Linked DNA regions of Homo sapiens: region 2 is reported to be linked to region 1. The links are microRNA targets in miRTarBase. Many come from high-throughput screens and were not tested one by one. Region 1 holds a microRNA gene; the other region holds the end of a gene's coding sequence.
The links. The annotated mature microRNA hsa-miR-7705 reads AAUAGCUCAGAAUGUCAGUUCUG and lies in region 1 at 1,509-1,531, shown strand. An mRNA with a match to its seed (bases 2 to 7 or 8) in the 3' UTR can be bound and repressed. Matches are read on the target gene's strand: a 7mer-m8 pairs with bases 2 to 8, a 7mer-A1 pairs with bases 2 to 7 and ends in A, and an 8mer does both.

Region 1 (3,152 bases):
GATATAGTTGTTTAGTGTAACAATTTATACTTTCATTTGAGGGAAGAAACTTATCTTTGTTGGGAATTGGTATGTTACCATTATGAAACTCTTTATTTCCATTCCTTTCCTGAACCAGTTTATCTGTTTTCCCCTTTTTTAGGTTGATGAAGCTGTAGCTGTACTACAAGCCCACCAAGCTAAAGAGGCTGCCCAGAAAGCAGTTAACAGTGCCACCGGTGTTCCAACTGTTTAAAGTGAGCTTTTCCCTCTGGTTTGTTGTTTTAAGCTTGTTTTCTTCATCTTTTATAAAGTTTGTTGAGCATATTTTGAAATGTACATAGCAAAAGATCATTTTACAGTTCATTTAAATGTATTGCTAATTTTTCAAGGAAAAGTGGAACTAACTATAGAGGAATTAAAGGAATTTTACCCGTTAACTGTTGGATTTTTAAAATCCCAGGACTTTCAGGTGGTGTTTTTTTTTTTTTTTTTTTTTGAGATGGAGTTTCGTTCTGTCGCCCAACCTGGAGTGCATTGACGCGATCTCGGCTCACTGCAACCTCCACCTCCCAGGTTCAAGCAATTCTCCTGCCTCGGCCTCCCGAGCAGCTGGGATTAACAGGCCCATGCCTGCCACCGTGCCCAGCTAATTTTTGTATTTTTACTAGACTTGGGGTTTTGCCATGTTGGCCAGGCTGGTCTGGAACTTCTGACCTCAAGTGATCCGCCCACCTCGGCCTCCCAAAGTCTTGAAATTACAGGCGTGAGCCACTGCGCCCTGCCAGATTTTGTATAGTAATATATATATAAAATGACCTGTCACAGGTTGGCTTTCATAGTTTTACCTTTCCTTTTTGGGTGGTGCCCTTGGGTCTCTACTACTGTCTTTCATCACTCCCAAGAAATTGAGTAGTGCAGCCAGGATCAGGACCAGGGATTGGCAAATGTTTTTTGTAAAGGGCCAGATAGGAAATATTTTGGGCTTTGAGGACTGTGTTATCTCTGAAATGATCTTGTTCCAGTGTTACCATGTCAAGACAACCATAGATAGTATGTATACAAATGAACAGGTATGGCTGTGTTCCAGTAAAACTATGGATAAAAACAACCACATTGCATTTGGCTAAGGGCTTTAATTTGCTACTGACAAGTGATAGTCCTGGTCTTAATTTGTTTTTTTAACATTTACAGATTGATCAGGGACCATGAAAAGAAACTTGTGCTTCACCGAAGAAAAATATCTAAACATCGAAAAACTTAAATATTATGGAAAAAAAACATTGCAAAATATAAAATAAATAAAAAAAGGAAAGGAAACTTTGAACCTTATGTACCGAGCAAATGCCAGGTCTAGCAAACATAATGCTAGTCCTAGATTACTTATTGATTTAAAAACAAAAAAACACAAAAAAATAGTAAAATATAAAAACAAATTAATGTTTTATAGACCCTGGGAAAAAGAATTTTCAGCAAAGTACAAAAATTTAAAGCATTCCTTTCTTTAATTTTGTAATTCTTTACTGTGGAATAGCTCAGAATGTCAGTTCTGTTTTAAGTAACAGAATTGATAACTGAGCAAGGAAACGTAATTTGGATTATAAAATTCTTGCTTTAATAAAAATTCCTTAAACAGTGCACGGATTTGCTTTTTTTCAAAGTCTTTATAATTGCCATGCATAAATAGGTAATATCTTAATGGTGCTGAGCCGACATAAGAATCTTTTATGAAAAATGTACTGTTAAGTTCAGGGGGTCTATTGGTTTTATGTAAAAGGCACAAGACAATTCCTGTAGTGCATTTTATGAGTTAAGGTTTCCATACGGATTATTGAAACAATTTGTTACATGTATTTGTTACATGATCTTAATATTTCATGTACAAGACTGACACCCATCCACTTTTGAAGATAAGCCAGTTTATGGGGTTTTTTTTTTTGCGGGTAGAGGTTGGGTCTCCCTATTTTGTCCAGGCTGGTCTCGAATTCCTGGGCTCAAGCATAAGCATAAGGCTTATTCCTGCATAAGCCACCATGCCTGGCCTGCCAGTTGATGATTATATTGAGGTTTCTAGGCTATGAGATTATTAGCTTAAACCCTTACATGATATAAAACAATGATAGCTACTCTTGAAGAGGATGTAGATAAGATAGGCTTTGGTATGATTTTAATATTAAAGTGTTAAAAGTTATGATTAGTTTTAAACCTTATTCTTGTAACGTCTTTAATTTGGTAGTTCATGATTGTGGCTTAATTTTAGTGTAATACCCAAAGTACTTGTTAAAGGTGAAGATGTGGGGTTCTTTTAGGAGGATGGATTTAGAAGATCTAGCCTGGAGTATAGGGTATCTGCATAAAACTGATAACCCAGGCAGTTTACACTTTTAGGTTTTAATTTCTAACCGATCATTCTCTGTGGACTACTGCTAGAGTTAGCTTTCTAAGTTAAACGTGTGGTTATCTCATTCCATGCTAAACAAACAATTCTATTAACCTTCGGGATTAAATAAATCTAAACAAAACCCTAGCTTGTGACAGTGGCAGCCCTCAATGCTGATGAAGCCTAGTGATGCTTCTGTACCTAGAATGCTTTTCGCTTTGGCTTCTTGTTTTGAAACTCAAGATAATACAAACTCCACCCTCCTACCCTTTAGCATAGAACAGTGCATCCAGTGGGGATCCTGATCATTTTGTATTTTGCCTCACAACAGACATACCCTCTCAGGGGCTGATGCTTCATTACAATTTTTTTTTTTGAAAGATTTTCTTCATTGTGTTAAGGCAGAGAAACACCATATTTTTTCAAAATTGTAATACAAAATGGTTCAAATTTTGAGGTTTTAAAAGAGCCGGCTATTTTGAGACACTTGAAGTCAAATCTATAAAGTTCACACACTAGTTCACACACCAAAATCTAGTGCCAGGTTGGGTTCATAGCTTTATACGTTAGGTAGCTGATTGATTGGAAGTCAGTATTTGTTGTGAGATTCGAAGATAAGTCATATTCATCTGTTCCTGAAATGTCTGCTTTTTCAGATAGAGCAAACTTTAAGTGGCCAGAGCCAACAGATTTGGGGAGTAGGCATTTGGATTCTTGCAGGAATTAAGGAAACAGTTGATTCTCATTTGCAGATTCCGTATTTACAAATTTGCCTACTCACTAAAATTTATTT
Region 2 (3,000 bases), not on the chromosome of region 1:
AATTAGCTCTTCAATAAAAAGAGGATTATAGCAGTAGCTATTGCTGATGGTAGTTAAAGGGAATTAAATGTGTGTTAACATATGTAAAGGGCACATGGTAACAATGCCTGGCTCACAGTAAGCCCTTGATAATATAAGCTGTTATTATTAAGGTATGTGTTTGCTATATAAATGAGACAATGCATATTTATACTTGGATTTCTTGAAGACCTATGTAGAAAATATTTCCATGATAAGTAATTATAAGAGCTATTTCTTTATCTTTCTGCCCTTGTTCATATATCCATGTTTTGTTTATTTTTTTGTAGTGATCGAACTGTGAGAATTTGGAAGGCTCGCAATTTGCAAGATGGTCAGATCTCTGACACAGGAGATCTGGGGGAAGATATTGCCAGTAATTAAACATGAATGAAGATAGGTTGTAAACTGAATGCTGTGATAATACTCTGTATTCTTTATGGAAAATGTTGTCCTGTACTTACTAGGCAAAACGTATGAATCGGATTAACTGGAAAATATATCTGAATTCAACTGCTGACTATAAATGGTATTCTAATAAAATTGTGTACTATCCTGTGTGCTTAGTTTTAAGATCAACCAATAGATATATATCCTACAATTGATATATTGCTTTATTCACACTTTTATTGTGGCTGAATTTTTGTGCCTATCTATAAAACACACTTTCAAATTATTTGAATTACCAAGACGTCTGCTTTTGTGACAGTCAGAAAACACACCTGGAATACGATGCAGCCCACCATTAACTCATTCATGTAGTTTATTCAAGTGATTTATGTATTTAAACTAAATATTGAAAATGTTAGTCAAATTGTGGTTTGCTTGTCAGGTATTTATATCAGTCTGTAGTGGATTCCCAAATTTCAAAGCTCTTTTAATGTAATGGACAAAAATAAGATATGAGAATATTATTGATGAATTTTCATAAGGTGGAATTGATCTTAATCTACTAACAGAGAAGGGTAGACAGTTTGTGTTAAATGTTGGCATTTACTTGTATTGACCAAAGTTTTGCAGCTCTACTATATTCTGTGCTCAGGACTAAAATGCTGTTAATTTTTTTTTTTTTTTCCAGTGCTGTGCATATATTCTGTGATGGGAAACATTGTTGATGTCCTAACAGAAATATATTTTGATCTATTTTCCTATGGAGTTGTTTCTATTATGACCATTTAATTTTGTTTTTATTTAATAGTAGTATTTCCTTCCCTTTTATCTAATTTTTTATATGCTGCTAAATATATTTTAAATATACTATGTTTGCGAACCTTGGTAGCTATGATGAGAGCTATTATCATCTGTGGTGGGAAAAGCTATGTAAATAGGTAGATTGTATAGAGAGACTATCTTGTGTTGTGCCTGTATGAATTTTTAAAAGTTGTTGACTGGATTTTGCAAAAGGATGTATAATATTTCTGTCTGCTCAGAATATTAATTTGTAAATTCTGCAAGTTTAATTTTTATGTAGATGGTATAACATTTGAAAATATTGTCTTATGTGATTTTTTCCCCTGAAAATATTTGCTTGTAAATGAAAACTTAGCTAGGGCTTAAATAAACATGTTGCTATGAAATTATTTTTACTGTATTGTTCTTTTTCCAAATTGCAAGAGAATGGCCAGTGTTTGTAAAACTTTGTTTTATTTTTGTGTGATGGAAGAAAAGACATATTTTTGGTTATCTGGCAATCCATATGCCTTCCTTTCTTTGCTTACTAGACGTGAAATATTCTTGAGGATTTTAAACAGTAACCTAATCTTGATGAACCATGGAAACTCACTACTTAAAGCAATTAAGTTCAACTGTGTAATTTAGGAATTTGAACATGGATGATAAAACAAAACAAAAAAAATTCCTATAAACATTAAGACAGTGGTGACCTTGTTTTCTAGAGAAGAGAAGGGGTGGCTTGTGACTGGCAGGTGTCACAGCAGGTGAGTTGGGAGGGTTGGGAGGGTGCTTCTGGGGTCCTAGCAATGTTGTAATTTTTGACCTGGGTCCTAAACTTAAGCATTCACCTTCTACATACATGTTGAACTGTATGTATATTTCTCTATCCTCTTTTATGTATGTGCATATGTTCTAAGTTTCATAGCAAAATAATCTTTGAAAAAAGTTTTAAGGAAGAGATTTTCCTATAAGGACAAAACTCAGCTCCTTTGTAATTTTTCCTCCTTCCCTGAAAGAAGGTACCATGCCAAGATCTGAAAGAGACTTCAAGACTATTTTAATTTCAAGTCTCTTGCAGTGTTTCTTTTTTGCAGGTTTACAGCTCAATAATTCATTAGCTTGATAATTGACTTATTCAATAGATGTTTAATGAGCATACACATTGCCAAGTATTGGGGGTGAAAAAATAACAAAACCGAGATGACACTTGCCCTCTGAGTAGAGTGAGATAATAAAACCAGCATTTACATAATAGCTTGGTAAGTGCTCAGATAAAGTCCAGGGTGCTTTAGCACCTATTAGACATATCCAAACTTAACTGCAAATCCAATGAGAGGTCCTGAGCACTGTGTTTGGTTGTGCAAAATACAAAGTTCAGTGTCTAATTTTACCTTTTAAAATGCTGGAGGCTCAGCTAGTGTGGATCTGATTGAAGAAATTCAAAAGCATATGTAAAAGAGGCAGCCTTCTTTAAAAAAATTACATTTTGAAACATGTTAACCCCTAAAGATCCCATTCAGAAATGTTAAAATAACTCTTAAAGCAGTTGAGATAGTGCCTGTAAGATTTAAAATGGATTACTCCACACTGTGTATTAAATATATGTTCTGTTCCCCCATACACACAGAATAGCCTCTTCTTTTTTTAGAAGATATGTTTCTGGTTTTAAATCCAAATCTCTAAAAGTTTGCTAAGAAATAATTACAAGATTTTTCATATTAATTCAGCTCTACCTTACAGCTTCACATTTATTATTTAACTCTCAGTTGATGTGGAGTCTTTCATAAAAATTTAAATTAAAATCATCAA

Region 2: the mRNA of KIF21A is a reported target of hsa-miR-7705. Seed matches in the 3' UTR shown: 7mer-m8 at 1,307-1,313.

The regions. Positions count from the first base shown.
Region 1 is chr8:100,701,381-100,704,532 of GRCh38, reverse strand. It overlaps MIR7705 (microRNA 7705), which reads left to right and starts at 1,509; the gene lies at 1,509-1,565. It overlaps PABPC1 (poly(A) binding protein cytoplasmic 1), which reads left to right. Exons shown (of 15, transcript NM_002568.4): 14 at 143-236; 15 at 1,174-1,617. The coding sequence ends at 235.
Region 2 is chr12:39,291,826-39,294,825 of GRCh38, reverse strand. It overlaps KIF21A (kinesin family member 21A), which reads left to right. Exons shown (of 38, transcript NM_001173464.2): 38 at 309-1,598. The coding sequence ends at 402. Among named protein-coding and RNA genes, the nearest start is that of LINC02406, 150 kb to the right of the region's middle.